Homo sapiens: one gene and its partners. The gene in region 2 interacts genetically with the main gene of each other region. Each region holds a gene or a part of one and is shown on either strand. Other genes may lie near its edges. The genes, in order: C1GALT1, MGAT1 and TRPC6.

Region 1 (7,111 bases), on a different chromosome or scaffold from region 2:
CTTTGGGAGGCCGAGGCGGGCGGATCACGAGGTCGGGAGATCGAGACCATCCCGGCTAAAACGGTGAAACCCCGTCTCTACTAAAAACACAAAAAATTAGCCGGGCGTAGTGGCGGGCGCCTGTAGTCCCAGCTACTTGGGAGGCTGAGGCAGGAGAATGGCGTGAACCCGGGAGGCGGAGCTTGCAGTGAGCCGAGATCCCGCCACTGCACTCCAGCCTGGGCAACAGAGCGAGACTCCGTCTCAAAAAAAAAAAAAAAAGGGAAGAGGAACAAACCTAAGCTAACACGTTAGCATGCGTATCCCTCATGCCATGTGATGCTCTGTGCCACCTCAAGACTCTTCAGAGGAGAGTCCTCAACAGCAAGAAGGCTCTTACCAGATGTGCCCCCTTTGGCCTTGGACTTTCTAGCCTCCGTAACTGTAAGAAATAAATGCTTTCTCTTTATAAATTACCCAGTTTCAGTTGTTCTGTTATAAATACCAGAAAATGGACTAAGACATAATAGCAAAGTGGTTAAGAGTCTGAATTCCTGATTCAGATTGCTAGTGTGACTCTCTGTGTCTGAATTCATCTGTAAATGGGAATACTAGTCCGTACTTTATAGTTTGCAGATGCTCTTAGTACAGGGTTCAAATGTTAACTGTAATTACCTCTCCTATTTTTGTTATTGCTAGAGAGAAACCTGTAATGATAATCACAAAATATTAATAATTGTTGTTTCTGGGTAGTAGGACTTGTGATGATTTCTTCCTTCTAAATCCTTTTTTAACAATGAATAGCATAAAGCTGTCCCTTTAAAAATAAAATTAAAATATAAATTTTAGTTGTCCCGGGAGTTCTTTTGTATCTGAAACCTCAGTTGTCAAGCTTGGAAATCTGTACTTTTAAAATATCCTCAAGCGATTCTGATTACACATCAGGTTTGGAAGCACTTGGCATAAAGAACTTCCCCCACCCAATTCAAAGAAATAGTATTTAAGCCCTCATAATGTGCAGTGTGGTTAAGCTGTGTCTTTTTCCAGTCTAGTCTACCTCAACACTCTTGTGGACATGATTTTTGCCAAAAATCTGAGTGAGCTTTGGGATGCATTCTACCCCCATGAGATGGCTATTTTATCCCAGGAGCAGGAAAAAAAAAAATGGGAGTTTACAGTTATTTAGTCATAAGGCCGGAGTCCTTTAAATTGGAAGGGAATGTGGTAAACACAACACAAGAGGAGCCAACACATTCTGAGTGTGCTGATACTCTGGGGGAGAAGAGTAAGAGAGTATGACAGGCATCAGACAGCATCACAAAACATTTTAAAGTTAAAAACAATTACGTAACACCAAGAAGTCAGTTTTCCTTACATTCACTCCAGGATAGATGCCTTGCTTAAAAAGTGCCTCTTCAGCTAAGAAAAACTGTGTCCATAAGTACTTCAGTAGCTTTCCACAAACAGTAACTGTTTTTGTGTTATAGAAGTAGGCTTGTTCTGAAGCTCAGCATGTCCTTGGAATATGATTGAGTAGCATGTTAGTATTCATAGTTGATGGAGCTGGGTTAGCACTTCTTTAACTTCAGATATCCATATGATGATAGAAATAGGAATTTTCTCTGGTCCTGCAGTCCTTCCTCTTCTCAGTCACAGTGCTTTCTGCCTAAGTGGTACTGAATGGCATTGTGACTACTGCTTTCTTCTCCAGTGCCAGGAGCGGTAGACTCTGCAGCAGTAAAATACTGTCTTTGTTCTTTTCTGAGATGGTGAAGTGGCTGTGTATGGTATTAAGGCAAAATCACAGCTAGGACAAAAAGCAATGGAAAACCAAGATCAGTGTGCTGTAAGGCAAAGTGTTAGTGAGAGAATCAGAGGATGTAGAGAGTGACAACTCAGTATCTGCTAATGCTCCAGGTTCACTGCTTCAATCGTATTCTGCTTGTCTTCCTCCATAAGAAATTAAGAGTTAAAACATCTTTCATTTACTTCTCTTGGCTTCATGTTTTCAATTCATGGTACTTTCATATCACATACCTCTATTGTAGATTGTCTTGATCATGTATACTGCTAAAGGAAGGACTTGTATAATATCGAACAGATACTTGACTAATCAGTTCTCTCTGGCTGTTTGAATGAAATTTCAAACCAAGATTTCTGGTTAGAGCAAGGTCTAATGAACTGGTCCTCAGACAATCGAGATATTTAGAATTTCAGAACAATCACTTAAGACAGGAGGGATATGTTTTATTGTATCTTTTGGATATAAAGATTACACTAACGGCCAACCTGAATGAGGGAAAGGGGGCAGTAGGGAGGCAGAATTTGAGACCCCCTCATCAGAGAAAACAGCAGAAAGACATGGTAAACTTGTTTCTGGTTTTCCTGTGGCAAATTTGATTGGGTGTAGAGAGAAGGATCGTTGAGTGGGGCTATGTACTCATCATCCATGAAGGCCTACCTTTCTGAACTTGAAGGTACAGTCAGGATAGAGCAAAAGGTGTAAACATGTATCTGATAGTTTCAGATGGTTAATTTACATCTCAAGATACTGGGCAGCTTTGCTTATACTGTGCTGTTCCTTCACCTCTCCTCTTCCTCTTAGGGTTTTTCTTCCCAAACTGGAATTACAATTCAGGAGAGAGCCTGAAATATAAGATATATAATGCAGCATAAGCATGGTGTGTTGTCATGGCATGTCAATTTTACTTGTAGATTTTGGGATATTTTTATATCAAATATGAATATATTAAGTATGTACTTAATGGGATAAAGACACATGAATGGGTTTTTGTATACACTTTTTACTGAAATAAATGTTAATACAGAAAAGTATGTAAAATCATAAATGTAGAGCTTAATGAATGTCACAGAGAACAAGCCATGTAACTACTAGTTTTTTTTGTGGTATCAATAAGCTTTCCTTTAATTACTGTTTGTATGGTATATTTTTCTATTATTTTGCTTTCAACTTTATAAATCTATTTAATATGTGTCTCTTGTAAGCTGCATGTAGATGAGTTTATTTTTCTCGAGTCTGGCTGGCAATCTTTATTTTTTAATTGTAGTTTTTAGTCTATTTGCTTTTAATATAATCATTGATATGTTTGGTTCTAAATCAACCACCTTACTATTTATTTTCTATTTGTCTCATCTATTCTATATTCCCTTTTTTTTTTTTTTTTTAACATTGCCTTGATTTGGGGTATTTTCCCATTTCATTTTTTTGTATTTGAATTTAATTATATTGTTTTACTGTTTGTTTGTTTAAAGATTATATTAGACATCCTTGGTCTTTTAAAGGCTATTATTAATCAGTTTTTTTTTTTTAAACAACTCCTGGACAGTGAAATGACTTTAGAGCTCTTAAACTCTATGGATCCTCCTTATACTTTTTGATGCCAGTTTTGTAATTTGTTTTAATGGTAATAATACTAATATCTTGTGAGACTTTCAAAAAATGTTTTATTATAGCCAATATTTATTTGGATTTACTTACATACATACCCTTTTTATGACTCTCCCTTCCTTCCTACATCTCTGAATTTTTATCTGAAATTCTTTTCCTTCTGCCTGAAGAATTAGAAATAGAACTGTTAGTGATAAATTCACTTAGGTTTTGTTTTTCTGAACATGTTTTTAAGGCTCATTCTTGAAGGACATTTTTGCTGGATACAGAATGCTAGGTTGGTAGTTCTGTTCTTTTAGCACTTTAAAAATAGTTCACTGCAGTCTTGATTCTGTTGTTGCTGCTAAAAAGTCAGCTGTCAATCTTATTACACCTTTGAAGTTTTTTTTTCTGTCCTTGGTTTTCAGTAGTTTGACTGATGTACTTAGGTAACATTTTCTTTTTCTTTGTAATCTTCATTGGGTTTTGTAGATTTTTAATGTGAGGGTTGGTACTGTGTCAGTTTCGGAAAATATTCAGTCATTATTTCTTTAAATACCACTTCTCCTGAGTTATGTCTCTTCCCTCAAAGGTTCCAGTTAACACTTACATTAGACCCTTTCACTTTATTCTGTTTTTTTGCTCAATTCTTTTTCAATCCATTTGTTTTTCCATACTTCATTCTGCGTATTTTCTTCTGACCTAGCTTTTTAGGTTATTAATTTTTTTCTTCAGCTGTGACTATTCTATGCCTAATTTCTTAATCTTGCCATTTAATTTCTTGACTTTATTAAGAATAGTTATTTCTAAGCTAAAAATATGAAAATCTTATTTGAGTCTTTTGGCTCTGTTTCTATTGTCTACTTTTTTGTGTTTAGCCGTAATTTTCATCTTGATGCCTGGTTGTTTTGGACATTGTGTATCAAAATTTTGTCCATGTTGTATACCAAAAAAAAAAAAGTCGTCATGATAATTTGAGGTTCTTCATGATTTTATATTTCTCCAGGAGAATATTTTTACAGTTAGGCTAGGGCGGATCATCCAGTCAGTGGCTGAGATGACTCTAACGTAGACTTCAGCCGTTGTAAAGATTGGTCTATTTTTGTTTTGTTCTTATTCTCAGATTGTAGCCTTTCAGAGTCCTTGATAAGAGCATAGGTGTTTTTCAGGACCTCTTCTCCTAAGCAGACTTTGGACATTAATTTTTGCTTAGCTTTATTGCCCTTGCTGTTTTCTCTTTCAGAATCAGTCATTGTCTTGAGGATAGAGCAGTGCCAGATGTCTGGTCTGCCTCTTTCCTTCCTTCTTCCAGATTTTGGCCCTACTAATTCTCACTGCCTTGATATCTTACCAGTGTCTTCAAACACATATTTATATTTTTTTACATTTTGTTCAGTTTTTCTGATTGCACTTGGTTGTACTAAAAGAACCTAGTCAGCCATTCCAGAAATACATGAAGTTGTTTTGTTTTTATTATTGTAGTGGTGATTGTTGGTTTGTACTTTTGCTTTCACAAACTATTTCAAAGCAATTTTGATTTTTAGGGTTATATTTCCCAGACCTCTACTTTCACTGCCCATTGCCCTCTGCTGTTAGTGGTGATTAGGTGAAGAGTTTGAGAAATGTAATGGAAAGGGCGTGGGTTTTTTTTTTTTGTTTTTTTTTTTTTGAGACAGAGTCTTGCTCTGTCACCCAGGCTGTAATACAGTGGCATGATCTCGGTCCTGCAGTCCTGCCTCCCAGGTTCTAGTGATTCTTTTGCCTCAGTCTCCCAGGTAGCTGGGATTACAGGCACGTACCACAACGCCTGGCTAATTTTTGTATTTTTAGTAGAGATGGGGTTTCACCATGTTGGCCAGGCTGGTCTTGAACTCCTGACCTCAGGTGATCCACCCGCCTTGGCCTCCCAAAGTGCTAGGATTACAGGCGTGAGCCACCACGCCCAGCCGGGCATGGGCTTTTTAAGCACACAGACCTACATTCAAACTGTGGCTCCTTCTGATTGTGTCAGCCTATATGAATTAATTACCTGTTTAAAATTACCTTTTTAAAATTTCTCTTTCCTCATCTGCAGACGGGTTTAGTGAGAATGAAAAAGGACATTGAAATTAAATTTTATTTAAAATGAAATAATGTATGGACAGCTTCTGGTATATAATAAATGCTTAGTAAACTTATTTTTTTAATTATCTTGAGGAATAGGAAACTAGAGTTAAGACCAATCTTTTAAGGAATTTAATAGAAGTTTATAACTTCACCATATAGTAATTGTTAACAAAAGCTTAAAAAGGGCGTTTATGTCAATGTTTGGTTGTGGGGCAGTTCAACAGGCATCTGTGTCCCAGGTACCCTACTTAATCTCGTTAATATTATAGATTCCATCCAAAATCTAGATCTTGCAGTATAGAGCAGAGGTCAGCAAACTTTTTCTTTTTTTTTTCTGAGATAGTTTCACTCTTTTGCCCAGGCTGGAGTTGAGTGGTGCAGTCTTGGCACACTGCAACCTCCGCCTTCTGAGTTCAAGTGATTCTCCCACCTTATTCTTACCAATTCTTCCCAAGTATTCACCTTATTCTTCCCAAGTAGCTGTGACTGCAGGCATATGCCACCATGCCCAGCTAATTTTTTACCATGTTGTCCAGGCTGGTCTCAAGCTCCTGACTTCAAGTGATCCACCCGCCTTGGCCTCCCAGAGTGCTGGGATTACAGGCATGAGCCACTGTGCCTAGCCAGCAAACTTTTTCTATAAAGGGCTAGGTACGGTTTTGTGAGACATATTGCCTCTATTGTAGCTATTCACTCTGCTGTTTTAGGGCAAAAGTAGCCGCAGTCAGTATATAAATGAATGGGCATGGGTGTGTTCAAATAAAACTCTATTTACAAAAACAGGTAGCAGGCCAGGTTTGGTCCATGGGTCCTCAAACTGTGCTGACCCTAGTCCTCCACAAGCTACAAGTGTTTTTTTACGTTTATAAAGGATTGTTTAAGAAGAAGATGCAACAGAAACCACATGAGACCCAAAAAGCCAAAAATATTTTATTTCTAGTTCTTTACAGAAAGGGTTTGCTAACTTTTGGGTTGGAGAAGGGGTGGTGGTTGCTACCAGAGAAAAAGAAGTAGACTTCCGTACTCAGAGTTAACAGCAAAGAAAGAAAAACAACACGACAGGAAGCCCTGGATCCACAAAGGATCCTGGTGGGAAGAATAGGAAATTCTGTGTGCAATACTGACATACTCATCCATACCCCACCCCAACTGTGACTGTCCTACTAATTAATCTGGTTTTATGGATTTTCCATAATGTGCTGTTTTAGCAGCAAATAGAGGGGTAAACTCATAGATAATAGCTAAATACTGTTAGAAATTAACTTTCCGTTATAGCTAAATGTTACCAGAATTTTTACTCCGGTTATGTATACAGCTTTGATTTTATAACATCCTGCTAATTTTTGTTCTTACAGAAATACACTTTCGGGAAATGGCCTCTAAATCCTGGCTGAATTTTTTAACCTTCCTCTGTGGATCAGCAATAGGATTTCTTTTATGTTCTCAGCTATTTAGTATTTTGTTGGGAGAAAAGGTTGACACCCAGCCTAATGTTCTTCATAATGATCCTCATGCAAGGCATTCAGATGATAATGGACAGAATCATCTAGAAGGACAAATGAACTTCAATGCAGATTCTAGCCAACATAAAGGTATGGTTTACTTTATTAAGCAGTAAACATAAGCAGTATTTTAGTC
Region 2 (7,111 bases):
CACCCTCAGTCAGCGCTCTCGATGGCGACCCCGCCAGCCTCACCCGGGAAGTGATTCGCCTGGCCCAAGACGCCGAGGTGGAGCTGGAGCGGCAGCGTGGGCTGCTGCAGCAGATCGGGGATGCCCTGTCGAGCCAGCGGGGGAGGGTGCCCACCGCGGCCCCTCCCGCCCAGCCGCGTGTGCCTGTGACCCCCGCGCCGGCGGTGATTCCCATCCTGGTCATCGCCTGTGACCGCAGCACTGTTCGGCGCTGCCTGGACAAGCTGCTGCATTATCGGCCCTCGGCTGAGCTCTTCCCCATCATCGTTAGCCAGGACTGCGGGCACGAGGAGACGGCCCAGGCCATCGCCTCCTACGGCAGCGCGGTCACGCACATCCGGCAGCCCGACCTGAGCAGCATTGCGGTGCCGCCGGACCACCGCAAGTTCCAGGGCTACTACAAGATCGCGCGCCACTACCGCTGGGCGCTGGGCCAGGTCTTCCGGCAGTTTCGCTTCCCCGCGGCCGTGGTGGTGGAGGATGACCTGGAGGTGGCCCCGGACTTCTTCGAGTACTTTCGGGCCACCTATCCGCTGCTGAAGGCCGACCCCTCCCTGTGGTGCGTCTCGGCCTGGAATGACAACGGCAAGGAGCAGATGGTGGACGCCAGCAGGCCTGAGCTGCTCTACCGCACCGACTTTTTCCCTGGCCTGGGCTGGCTGCTGTTGGCCGAGCTCTGGGCTGAGCTGGAGCCCAAGTGGCCAAAGGCCTTCTGGGACGACTGGATGCGGCGGCCGGAGCAGCGGCAGGGGCGGGCCTGCATACGCCCTGAGATCTCAAGAACGATGACCTTTGGCCGCAAGGGTGTGAGCCACGGGCAGTTCTTTGACCAGCACCTCAAGTTTATCAAGCTGAACCAGCAGTTTGTGCACTTCACCCAGCTGGACCTGTCTTACCTGCAGCGGGAGGCCTATGACCGAGATTTCCTCGCCCGCGTCTACGGTGCTCCCCAGCTGCAGGTGGAGAAAGTGAGGACCAATGACCGGAAGGAGCTGGGGGAGGTGCGGGTGCAGTATACGGGCAGGGACAGCTTCAAGGCTTTCGCCAAGGCTCTGGGTGTCATGGATGACCTTAAGTCGGGGGTTCCGAGAGCTGGCTACCGGGGTATTGTCACCTTCCAGTTCCGGGGCCGCCGTGTCCACCTGGCGCCCCCACTGACGTGGGAGGGCTATGATCCTAGCTGGAATTAGCACCTGCCTGTCCTTCCTGGGCCCCTCCTTGCCACATCATGAGCTGAGGTGGGACCACAGTCCCCAGGCTGCATCGGCCTGCCTGTGTTTCCCTCTTAGGTGCATTTATCTTTTTGATTTTTCCGAGTGGCATTTAAGTGCACAAATGATAACAAGAGGATTATTCTCCCGTTCTCAAGGGAGTCAGATCAGGGGAACTATTCTAGGGTATGTTGCGGGGTATTAAGCAGGAAACCACTGTGTGGTGGGGGGCACTGGGCTTGTTGGGGCCAGAAATGTCCACGTCCTGAGCTTTCTCCTGGAGCATGTGCAGAGAGTTTGGCAACGTTCGCTCTCTTGACCAGACCCCTTCTCCCTGACCTGGCTCTTCCAGCCAGGGCACGAGCCCTCCTTCTATACCTGCTCCCCTTCCCCCAGTGGGGACTGAGTTATGGGAGAAGGGGACATATTTGTGGCCAAAATGATACTAACCAAAGGGGCTTCCTTGTCAGGGCCTGGTGGAGTTGGTGGGTCATCGGGGCTCACTGCCTCCTGCCCTTCTCTCCTGTCTGACCCCCACTTAGCCCTTCTCTCCTTGCAGCCTAGCAGTTTATAGTTCTGAGATGGAAAGTTGAAGGGGGCAAGCAAGACCTCTCCTCAGCCCATGCCCAGCTGTCAGGAGAGAGGTGCAGGGAGGAAGGCCTTGTGCTGGGACAACCTCTCTCTTGCCTTACCTCAGAGAGGGACTATGCCCTGACCCCTCCTTTCTGAAAATCAGTGCCCTCCCTGTTGCTCTAGGAGGCTCCTGCTGGCTTGGTAGAAGACAGAATTCGATCTGCCTGTCCCTTTTTCCCCTGGGGTTTGACACACAGGCTCCTCTCAGCATGAGGTGGAGCAGTGACCAGGTGGAGCAGTGACCAGGACGCCTCTGGCCCAGTGCTGCCCAGCCTCCCCGCCCGCTCCCAGGCGCCCCATGTCCTCACAGGCCAGGACGCCATGGCAGGATGGAGAGGACTTGGTGGATTTTTGTTTCTTGCCTGACCTCAGTTTCATGAAAGAAAGTGGAAGCTACAGAATTATTTTCTAAAATAAAGGCTGAATTGTCTGAAAAATATTTATGTGTGTGTGTCCTGGAAAAGGAGGTGGCAGGCAGGGAAAGAAAGGAAAAGGGAGAATGAAGAGTTAAGGAGAGGGCTAGACGGGTGGGAGGAAGCAAAGTTGAGGAAAGAAAGCAGATGAGTGGGAGGGAAGAGCCAGGGACAGCCCAGGGGATGGGGGCCAGGTGGGAAAGGAAGTCCAGGCCACAAGGTGGAGAGGAGCCCCGGACTGTGCTCCTGCTGATCGTCCTGTAGAGCCAGGAGGCCGCAGCAGGAAAGCTGGTGAGTGTCTCCTGCTTCTGCCTCCTGCTGGCTGGGCAGGCCTGGTCTGGGGAAGAACCAGGTCCTCTGATCAGGGTGGTCCCTGAGTGGTGCTTTGTGCCCGGTGCCCTCTGCTGGCCCAGGCAGTGCTTATTGAGTGCCCTTTATGACGTGCCGGGGAGCCTCAGGGTACACAGCTGATACCAGGGTTGGCCTCACAGTGGCGCTTGGACTCCCAAACGCAACCCCAGTGAGAGTGCCTGTTTTGCTAATACCCAGAACACAGACAGACTGTTACCTCTGCATATCACGTGCAACATTCTGAGAGTTTCTGTTCTCCACTAATTCATTTAAAAGAACAAAACGCGGCCGGGCGCAGTGGCTTACACATGTAATCCCAGCACTTTGGGAGGCTGAGGCGGACGGATCACGAAGTCAGGAGTTCGGGACCATCCTGGCCAACATGGTGAAACCTAAAAATACTCTACTAAAAATACAAAAACTTGCTGGGCATGGTGGCACACACCTGTAATCCCAGCTACTCAGGAAGCTGAGGCTGGAGAATCACTTGAACCCGGGAGGCAGAGGTTGCAGTAATCCAAGATCATACCACTGCACTCCAGCCTGGGCGACAGAGCAAGACTCTGTCTCGGAAAAACAAAACGCTTTTTGTGACTCACGAACTTGATTTCATGAGTGGGTTTGAAAACCCTGGGCTAGTCCAGGCGCGGTGGCTCACGCCTGTAATCCCAGTACTTTGGGAGGCTGAGGCGGGTGGATCACTTCAGGAGTTTGAGACCAGCCTGGCTAACATGGTGAAACCCCATCTCTACTAAAAATACAAAAATTAGCTGGGTGTGGTGGCACATGCCTGTAATTCCAGCTACTTGGGAGGCTGAGGCAGGAGAATTGCTTGAACCCGGGACGGGGTGGTTGCAGTGACCTGAGATCGCACCACTGCACTCCAGCCTGGGCGGTAAGAGCGAAACTGCGTCTCAAAACAAAACAAACCAAAAACCCTGGGCTAGGCAACTTTCTTGGCAGAAACTACTTTGGAGCTCGACACCAGATGGTGGCAGAGTTGTCTGGGGAGCTGTGTCGAGGGCCGTGGCCTTGGGAGCAGCTCCAACCTCCCATCTGGGCTCAGAAACCAGTGTCAGACATTGGTTTTATTTTAACCTTTGAGATTTGTGTGGAGCGGGTTTTGCCTTCCCCTGTTGCTTAGATGGATTATTTAGCCATATTTTTTGTTAAATAAGGGGAGGTGGTCATTATCCGTGATTTCAGACGTGGAATCGGCCCGGCGATAGCTGCATTGTGCCCTTTCCGGTGGAGCCAGGAGGAGTTTGGCCGCCACGCTCCATGCGCATAGCATGTCATGCAGCTAGCCAAGTGCATTGTTCTGAGTGCTCCAGGATAAGTACCAACTTACTTAGTGCTCCAGGATAAGTACCAACTTAGTGCTCCAGGATAAGTACCAACTTACTTAGTGCTCCAGGATAAGTACCAACTTACTTAGTGCTCCAGGATAAGTACCAACTTACTTAGTGCTCCAGGATAAGTACCAACTTACTTAGTGCTCCAGGATAAGTACCAACTTACTTAGTGCTCCAGGATAAGTACCAACTTACTTAGTGCTCCAGGATAAGTACCAACTTACTTGATCCTCAGAGCAAGCCTAGGCGGTGGGTACTGTTTTGCTCCTGTTTTACCAGTGAGGAAGCAGGCACACAGAGGTGAAGTTGCCCAAGGTCACACAGATGGTTGAGGGAGAGCCGGATTGGAATGAACTCTGTGCTGTTAGCCACTGTGTGAGGCTGGACTGTTCCATTCCAGCCTTTACGGCCTCTTCCAGGCCATTCCCCAGCTGCACTTGGATTCTCAGGCCAGGCACCGGCGGTCTCCTGTGAGGGTGGAGAGGAAGAGGGGGCTGCGTGGCTCGGGGAGGTCCAGGAGAGATGGCGGGAGGAGTAGAGTTTGGGGCCTGCGGTGCCAGAGGACCCCCTTACAAGACGAAAGACTGGGTTCTCAGGCTCCTGAAGCAAGGAGCACCTTCAGGGGTCTCCTGGTATTCACCCATCAAGGCTTGCTCAGGTGGCATGCGTGTGTGCGTGGCGGCTGCCCCCGGGCCCGGAAGCGCCTGTGGATACCAAAGCAAGTGGAAATGCCAGATGGAAAAGCCCCGTGTTAGTCAATGCTGTAGAGTTCAGCCAGCCTCGAGTTTGCAGGTTTACAGAGCTGCCTTGCGCCTGGCTGCTGCTGCTGCTGCATTCCTGCTTCTGCCTCCAGCTGTGACCACCTCCTGCCACTCCTGCTCTCACTGTGGGTTCCTGCTCACTCTGTCTCCAGGACAGACTGCCTTCCGGGCAGCCTTCCCTCCTCAAGCCTCTTGGCCTTTGCAATCCTCTTACCTGGGTCACTGGTGGGATCTCATTTGTGGATCAAGTCGCCCCCAGTGGAGACAAATGTCTGATGGAGTCTGGCCAAGGCCCTCCTGAGCCTTCACTGGGCCCTGCATGAGAAGCCTGCCAAGGCTGAGGGGCCAGGGAAACGGAGACGAAGCCCTCAGAGCAGGCCAAGAGGGTGGGAGGTGGGGGGCATTTAGAGGGTTAGATACAGAGCACCCCTTTACAAATACCAGCTACTGGCTTTTCGTATTACATGTTCATTTTAGATACAACATACTGCACACGCTCCCTTAACGTGTGTTTACGCGTGGGTGGTGTATCCTTCCAGACGTCTTCCTCACATCTATACATAATATGCATAGATAAAACATTTACCACCAAAACCCATAGTGTTATGTACATATTTGTCTGGCTGTGTAACTTTAAATAACATACAAATGTATAGAACAGAAGCTTGCCCTCTTTCTGAAATATCTAACGTGGGATTTCAGGCTTTCTGATGAGACCTCTGTAGAGGTCAGTGTTTTGCCACCAGAGGTCCTTCAGCCTCCATCTGTTCTCCCACCTACCCACATTCTGGCCCCTGGCAATTCACAGGGAGTTTAGGAAGTAGACACCAGGGCCCTATTTCCTGGAGACCAGCCTGGTGGCCGATGTCATAGAGTGCGGTGGGCCTGGGCCGGCCCTGCTCTGGGCCCGTGACCTGCGTGTCTGACTCGGGTCCAGCTGTTCTTCCTGCCAGAGCCTCTTCCTGTGAGGCGGGGGTAACACAACCTTCTGTGGTGGCTGTGGGATTAATCCGTATGGCTGCATTGTGAGTAAAGCCTGGTGGAAATCTCTGTCTCCACTGCTTTCCTTTTCCTGCTGTTCACCTTGGCTCCCTCGACACTTAATCCCCCTCCACATGTGTCTGGAGCGGGCAGAGCGGGGGCAGTTGATAGAAAGGGGGCCGGGTAGTGCCAAGGCTGTTACTTTCCCCCACTGCCTCCCTTGGCTAACTTGAAGTCTGACCCTTTATACCAGAACTGTAAGACAGTGTGTCAGAATGGATTCAGTTGCAGAGCAGGAAGCCTGGATCCCAGCGCCGGACGGAAATGAGAGGTCGATGGTGCAGGCTGGTGTGGGGGTTCCTCCACCGTCAGGGCCCAGGCTCCTTCTCAGGTCTCAGTCTCACTCTTCTTAGCACGAGGTCAGGTCTCATTCCTTGGCTGCGGGAGCTCCAGCCAGCACACGTTTTAGGAAGAAGGAGGAAGGAAGAAGGTAAAGGGTGGATGGCAGCTGCCTCCTCCTCTCTTGGAAGCTCACAGAGCGCTGGGTCACAATTCCCTGGGTAGAACTGGATCACACAGGCACCCCTGTCAGCAAAAGAGGCTGGAAAAAGTATTTCTGAAGCTGAATCAAATTAAGATTCCTGTTACTAAGAAGGGAGTGATTGTATGGGCGACTACAGGGACCACGGCCATACACGGTGCCTGGAAGACCAAGCTTGTGACAGTGACGAGGATTTGGAGAGGGCAGGGTGATGGGGAGCTTTGGGGGGAGTGCATTAGGAACCCTGACCTGGAGAGGGGCAGAATGAAACCTGCGGGCCCCTAACCCTAGTGGGTTGTTTGAGAAACCTGTCCTACTGTGGCAGGGGGCTGAGTCTTCTCAGGGTCATGCATGAAAACTGAAATTCCTGAAGGCCACACACAGCCCCGGAAGTGCTGACTGACAAGGGCACATGCCAGTGATGCAGTTTTCTTTTTTGTCTTCACTTTTGTTGTTCCGCCGTCTTCAACACATGGCTCCCAGCTCACAGCAAATGCTGCCCTGGTTCAGCTACCAGGAAGCAGGAGAGGGGAAGGGAGGGCAAGCCTCATTCTTTATGGAACAAAAGCAGTGGGCAGACAGCCTTCCCTCACGTTCCACTCACTGGAATGTGGTCTGGCTGCCTTCCCTGCAGGAGGTGGGATGCACCCTCAGTGCAGCAGCCCTGCCCCAGCCAAAAACGTCTCAGCACAGCTGTAAGAAGAGGAAGATGGCTAGAGACAGGCAGCCTTCCCTGCAAGGGCAATGAGGCAAGCCTGCCAAAAGCCTCCTTTGGAAATACTGTTTGATTACTTTTCAGAGTTTCTATTTAGGAAAAGGGCAAAAC
Region 3 (7,111 bases), on a different chromosome or scaffold from region 2:
GTGAAGGAGCTGATAGATCTCTAGAGTACATTGTTCATTATACACGGTGTCGACCACAATAGCCATTAAGGTCCCACAGTGCCTTTTTCCATCGCTTCTTGATTATTGACAAATTAGGAGGCACTGGGGACCATGCCTGCTCTCTACCTGAGCTGCAAAGAGTGAAGTTAATCATACCCTCCATCAGGTTCCTGACAGAATATTCCCTTCTTTATATCACCAGTCTTCTATTCCATCACCATAAGTATATATATGTGCTTAGTATATGTCTTAAATGTACATGCTATTCTTTTTTGCTTATCAAACATAGCTTATTTCTACCTCTCAATAACAGAATTGTTGAGATTTGTTAAAATAGTTGAATTATTTAATGGGTCTGTTCTCTACTTGCTAAAATTGCTTCTGAACATCTGTCCCTTTCTTTGAAAAGATAAGCCCGATCATGTGCATGACTTCATATTTTCAAATATGAGCTTACCTGTTTTTTGTCAAGTGATAATTTTGAAAGGTCTTCATGACTTCCTAAAATTCCAAGTTTCTTTTCTTCATTTATCTTTTAAAGATAGATAGTAAAATGAGTATAACTGCATAACCAATTTCACTCTTCATTCTGTATTTTAAAAGCCATTTCGTCTAATTCTCCAACAAGTTTTAATGAGAGAAACATATTCTTACGGGGTTCTTCCCTTTGCAAGTGCTTGCTTAGACATTTCCTTTGGACTCTGAATTCCCTCAGGTTGCAGTTCTAACCAGACCTGTAAACCACCCATTTAATTAAGTAAAATAAAGGAAGGGAAATTTTTGCCACTCAATCCACTGAGTTCTGTAAGTTATACTTCTGGAAGAATATCATAGATTGTATTTTTTCCAAAATTCCTACACAAATTAATCATAATCACATTTAAAGAAAGCTTTAAAATTCTCAAAGTACTTTTATATACTTATTTGAGTTGATCTTCAGGATGTAGATATAATTTTTTTCACATATTACAGTTGAGGAAACTAGAACTCAGAGAATGTGCTACTTACTTGAGCACCCTAAATAGTAAATGGGAAACAGTGCAGGAATTACAACATTTTCCTTTTATTTAATGATAGAATCTTATTGCAAGGAAACTTTATAATCATTTGGCCCAATTGCCCACTCAGTGTAAGAAGGAAAAATCTTCAATACATTCCCACTGTCAGCCATCTGGCATTTATTGACTTCTTACAATGGTGGGAGGCTCACTACTTCTAAAGGCAGCCCATTCTTCTGTTGGGCAGATTTTCTTATTAAAAGTTTGCTCTTATATCGAATTAAAATTTAACAATTTGAATTTTTGGCCCATTGCTTTTCTTCCCATTTTTGAAAAACAAGTGTACTTCCTAATTAAAGATGGAAATTACAAAGATATTTTTAGTCACTTTCAATCTTCCTTTTTCAGAAGAAACAGCCAGCTCCTTCAGTCCTCCCTCATATGACACTTTATCCATATGTGTTCCATTCTGGTCCTCCTCCTCTGGATACACCTGGTATCTCAGTGCTCCTTCTGAGTACAGAGGTCTAAATGCTCAGCAGAGATCTTTGCATAGCATAAGCCCTCACCTTCCACCTCCAGTGAGACACAAATTCCACATGTTCTCTAAACATATCTGAACATGCTGTGATCGCCCTACTGCCTCATCTAAGCACTAAATCTTTTTATTTTTTTTAAAGATTGCATCACCTTGTGGGATTACTGTTTTCAATCAATGTCCTTAGCTCTTTCTTTCTTGAACTACTTATTGCCAAGCCTGGTCTCCCAAATTCTATGTGAGCAACTGATTTCTGAACTTTTCAATGTAGAAGCTATCTAAGAGTTAATCAAGTTGCCCCGCCCCCCCCCCCTCCCCGAGTCATAACAAGCTGCTGCCGATTTACTGGGCTGTATAAATTGTAGGAAAAGTGAGGGACATGTAGCCATAACAGCAAAAAAGCAGCCCAGAATAGTTCTTCTTTCAGTACCCACTCCAGATAACATATTATTTTAGTTATATTTCATGAATTTTTCTTACATTCTTTTAAGTAGGAAATGTCCAGTGTGCTCATGTTGAACAGACACAAGCCAAAGGACTGTGCTGTGTGAAGTGACTGCATATGGGAATGAATGGATGTGTCATCAGGAACTGCTTCTCTTTAAAGGGATGTGGCATAGTGGTTACAGTAGTCACAAAATTTAAGAATACAATGATAACTTATCAAGCTAAGTTACCTTGTTCATCTCTGCATCTTCCTGGAAACCTTTTTTATGGCCCTGGAACAGCTCAGAAATCCATTTTTTAAGCTTCAGTAAGAGATAAAACAGGGACTTTGGACTCGGCACCAGATTGAAGGGTACAGGAAGTGTTCTGCCCTCCTCAAAGTAGGAAAACCAGAGTTTGGCCCTTGCAAATTTCCACTCCACATCAGCGTCATCCTATACAAATACACATGACAGTTCAGCAAGGAAATGCATAAACAGAATTACTGGGATGCTTTTAACATTGTGTAGCTAGATGGAGGACAATGCCTATAAACACTCTCAGACCCCAGTGATCGTTCCAAGATTTTTTCAAAATGTTAACATTCTATTCACATATTCTTTCTTAAATTTGTCTAAAATTTTGACAGTCTTGCAAGACTATTAATCTCCAAGTTCCCATGTGTTTATAAATACCTGATAGATATAAATGTATTTTCCTACTTTCTGAAAAATGCTATGAAAAATTATTCTCTCTTTTATTCTGAAATATACCACTCATTTATTTGGGACACAGATCAAGATTTCTGGAATAAAAATTTACACTATTAATCTCAACTTGAGAAAAGGTCAATTTTGAATATCACTCAAAAAAGACTTGGAGAATGATGGTATTCATAAGCAATAATTTTTTGAATAAAATATAAATTCATGCTGATATAGTATTTCTAAAGTTTTTTATTAAATTAGTATCAAATCAGCATTTCTGCTTCTTATGCCTTACGTCTCTGCCCCATGACACCTTACTGATGTTGCATTTGGAAGCAAAGAGTTAAAATTTTCCAGATTACTGGTCAAACGAGTGTATAAAACAGGGAATGAACAAAGGGCGAAGAGCAGTCCATGCTTTCATCCCCATTGCTGAGTTAGCCCTTGGAATAGTTAAAACATGAAGGCACAAATTATAAAAATGTATTGAGATTATACCTCAATTTCCTGGAATGAACTGTTGATCATGGCAATTAACATATTTAGCAAAACAATGACCATCGTAACATTATAGACTCCATAAAGAACGTAACCAATGTTTTCAATGAATTTGTGGTTATAGTTGATGACCACTGATTTCACTTCAGAAAGTCCAAATATAGCCCAGAACAGTGTCTTAAAACTCTCTTCAACTCTGGGGAAAAAATAACAGAAGAAAAGAAATAAGAAAGTGTATAAATAAATAACAATATTACCATAATAAAAGTGAGTTTGTTTAGTGTCTGCAAATTAGTGAGTATAAAAAAAATTCTTCACTTCTCTGAAGCTCACTTTTCTTTTCTGTAAAATGGTTACAATAGGATTGCTGCAAGGATGGGGTAATATTGTGCATATGAAGTACATAATCATAGCTCAATATCTAAATACATAAGCACTCAATAAATGCTATTAACATAATTTCATAACCACAGATATGAACACTTAATCCATAGCGTTGGCAATGGAATTGTTAGAATCCTTTTAGGTTTCCTCCTGATCTATACTTCTACTCATATCCAATAGATAATAATCATATACATCTTAATGGAAAATACAATATAAACAGACAATGTTACCAAAATCACTGACATGTCTTAGGTAGGAATTTCAATGCTTTAGGCCTAATTATTGACCAAAGCTAAGCCAGTTTGCTTAACTCAGGTGGTTTCACTTCCCTGGCAAACTGTATTTTAGAGAAATATGGAAAACAGTAGGCTTACATTTCAGTTGTTGCTTCTTATTATAACACTGAAGACCTAATATTTAAATAATCTATTCCAAACACACTTTATGAAAAAAAAAACACGTGTCCATGGTGAACATAAGTCAAAACTCTTGCCACTATTGATAAGTCATATCTACTCAGTGATAAGATCTGAGAAATTCAATTAGGAAAGTAGCTGTTTTCATAGTTAGCATCCCCAGGAGTGAGTCCCCTGTAAGCAGGAGGGTAAGGGAGTTTAGAGCAACAGACCCTAGAGTCAGCAAGCAAGGGTTACAGCCTGGCTTGTTCCACACACAGCTATGGAATATTCAGCAAATTACTTAATTTTTGTGAATTTCAGTTGCCTCTTGGTGAAATAGAGATAATAAAGGGAGGCATGCAAGGTATTTACCTGGCTCTAAAAATGTAAGTTATTATTTAATATTAGAAAGCTTCCTATATTTTAGAGTCCCTCCAACTCATTTGTAAAATCCCCTCATTTTGCAAAACAGGAACTAGAGATGAAGTCTTTACCAAAACATTATCCCATGGACTTACATAAACGCTGTTAAACTAATATTTATTTAATTTGCAATAACTATCATCAAAATATCTGAGATCACATACGTTGTGAAGGCTTCATTTTGTTTTGCACCAATGTAGTAGGAGTAGAGATTGAACATTCCAATCATAAAGGCCACAAACACCATAATGAATATGACCATGAACTTGAAGATGTCTTTGACTGTTCTTCCAAGTGATATCTGCAGAGGTCCAAAGCTTTCATTTGCTGGTAAAATATAAGCTATCCTAGAGAAACTTAAAACTACAGCAATTGCATAAAGACCTTCAGATATTATTTGAGGATCAGAGGGGTCCCACTTTATCCTGGCTAGGAAAAAGCAAAGACAAAGAGTTGTGTGAGTTTCTTCAAGTTTTTTATTTAGGTAACTTCTTTTTCTGCGAAAGAAATATAGTTATGTTAGAATCCGGTTTTCGAATGGAAGTCTCCTATCTTAAAGGGCTTCTTAAGTGTCTGCTAGAGTTGAGCTTCTTAGTTTATTGAGAACATGACTCTCCTGGTTTACTAGCAATTTCCCATAAGGGGATAGCATAATAGTTAAGAGTTCAGACTATAGACTCAGTATCTGTAAAAATTCATGTATGTATGTACGCACACACACGTATAACAAAGAACTTATGCAAACTACTTCTCTAGTTTTGTTTCCCCATTTTTGAAAATGAGATAATATCCCTTCTAACTCTCTTGTCTTCGTGAGAATTCAGTAAGTCAGCATATGTTCAGCGTTTAGCAAGTGCCTGGCACTTAATAAATGGTAGCGTTTATTATTCAGTCTTAAACTATAATTACACTATAATATAATTTTAGGCTTGTAGCATATTTGTAGTCATTTAAATGTATTAGAAGTAACTTTTATTGGTCACTCAAACAAGTCTATTTTTACCATAAAATGAAGCAATTATTCACTTATGGATTTTTTTGGCATTATTACATCAGGTCATCAAAAATGCAACTAAGAAACCATTATGAAGAAAAACACAAAACAGTGTGTAAGAAAGGGGAAAAACATAATTACAAATTTGTATTTGCTTATTTGCTGAGAAGTGGAATTAGGAGAGGATAACAAGAAACTAATAAAAGCAGTTTCCTTTTTTATAGTGCTTTGAATATAAGTATTATCTACAAATAGCTTTGAATTTTTTTAATTAAGTGCATTTTAAAAAATCTTAAAATTAAACATTAAAATAAACATTAATAATAATAATGGAGGCCTTATGTGATATTGCCAATAAACTCACAAGTGAATGTTAACTAATTTCTTATCAGAGGGTTTGAAATGAGTATTCAAAGGGAATATATTTTCCCCATCCAGGTTTCTACGAGGTGGTAGTCTCCTTAAGTACATAACTGGACCAATTTCCATCCCTTAGTCACTTTCTTCCTGGAAAGCTGGAATGACTTATCTGATTGCTAAATTGGGATGAATAACTGGACATAGTTAGCTCGGCATTACCTTCTCTCTCTTGGGAATTCTCCTCTGGTCCTCCATGGAAGATCTCACTTGATCGGGCACTTGCTGCCATCCTCTTTTTGTGAGGAGGACTGCCCTGGCCCATTGCTATCTAGAAACTGGAGGATATGTCTGCCTAATTCTGGGGTTCAGTATTACTGAATCCATTAGCTAATAGAACTATGTCATCCACCCTGGATTTTATCAGTGTTAGAGGTGATGATCTGGCCTCCATATTAATTTCTTGTTTTATTTCTCAACTAATTCTAAGCCTGGTTGGGAAACAGTGGTGTTATTGATTGGGGAACCTCTCAGAGATCCCAACAATTCCTTCGTTTTCAAATACTTTTTATATATCTTAAATGAAAATGGCACTCAAATGTGAACTTTATTATATATATCTATGGGGCACAACTTGATGTTTTCATATATGTCTGTCTACACTGTGCAAAGATTAAATTAAGCTAATTAACATATTCATCACCTCGAATATTTACATTTTTGTGGTAAGAACATTTAAAATTTACTCTCAGCAATTTTCAAGTATACAGTACAGTACATGATTATTAACTCTAGCCACTATACTGTATATCTCCCTTATTATAAGCTTATTACAAGCTCCCTTATTATAAGCTCTAACTAATAAGTTAGAACTTACTCATCCTATCCGTGTACCCTTTGTAAACTTTGTACCTTTGGCCAACATCTCCCCATTTTGTGCCTTTTACCCCAGCCCCTGACAACCACCATTACCTTCTACTTCTTTGAGTTTGACTTTTTTTAGATTCCACAAATAAGTAAGATCATATACCATTTGTCTTTCTGTGCCTGCCTTATTTCACTCAGCATGATGTCTTCCGAGTTCATTCATGTTGTTACAAATGACAGGATTTTCTTCTTTTAAAAGGTGGAATACTATTCCATTGCACATATATATACACACACACACATGTGTGTACATATACATATATACACGTGTGTGCATATATACACACACGTGTATATATACATATACATATATATGTATACAGAGAGAGAGATACAGAGAGATAGATCAAACGTGAACTATTTTTAATTAAAAAAGAGGGAAAAATAAATCCAGGACATAAGACATGTATTCTCCATGAAGTTTGATAAGTAGCCAA

The links.
Region 1: of MGAT1 (region 2) and C1GALT1, changing one enhances a phenotype caused by changing the other (phenotypic enhancement), as found in Homo sapiens cells (one study listed by BioGRID).
Region 3: of MGAT1 (region 2) and TRPC6, a change in one rescues a mutant of the other (synthetic rescue), as found in Homo sapiens cells (one study listed by BioGRID).

What each region holds. Positions count from the first base shown.
Region 1 is NC_000007.14:7,227,475-7,234,585, forward strand, and holds part of C1GALT1 (glycoprotein-N-acetylgalactosamine 3-beta-galactosyltransferase 1), read left to right. Parts: intron 1-6,828; 5' UTR 6,829-6,845; coding exon 6,846-7,065; intron 7,066-7,087; exon of another isoform or gene 7,088-7,111. UniProt on the Homo sapiens protein: Glycosyltransferase that generates the core 1 O-glycan Gal-beta1-3GalNAc-alpha1-Ser/Thr (T antigen), which is a precursor for many extended O-glycans in glycoproteins.
Region 2 is NC_000005.10:180,785,752-180,792,862, reverse strand, and holds part of MGAT1 (alpha-1,3-mannosyl-glycoprotein 2-beta-N-acetylglucosaminyltransferase), read left to right. Parts: coding exon 1-1,229; 3' UTR 1,230-7,111. UniProt on the Homo sapiens protein: Initiates complex N-linked carbohydrate formation. Essential for the conversion of high-mannose to hybrid and complex N-glycans.
Region 3 is NC_000011.10:101,468,949-101,476,059, forward strand, and holds part of TRPC6 (short transient receptor potential channel 6), read right to left. Parts: intron 4,826-7,111; coding exon 4,561-4,825; intron 3,385-4,560; coding exon 3,189-3,384; intron 2,439-3,188; coding exon 2,235-2,438; intron 554-2,234; coding exon 479-553; intron 1-478. UniProt on the Homo sapiens protein: Forms a receptor-activated non-selective calcium permeant cation channel. Probably is operated by a phosphatidylinositol second messenger system activated by receptor tyrosine kinases or G-protein coupled receptors.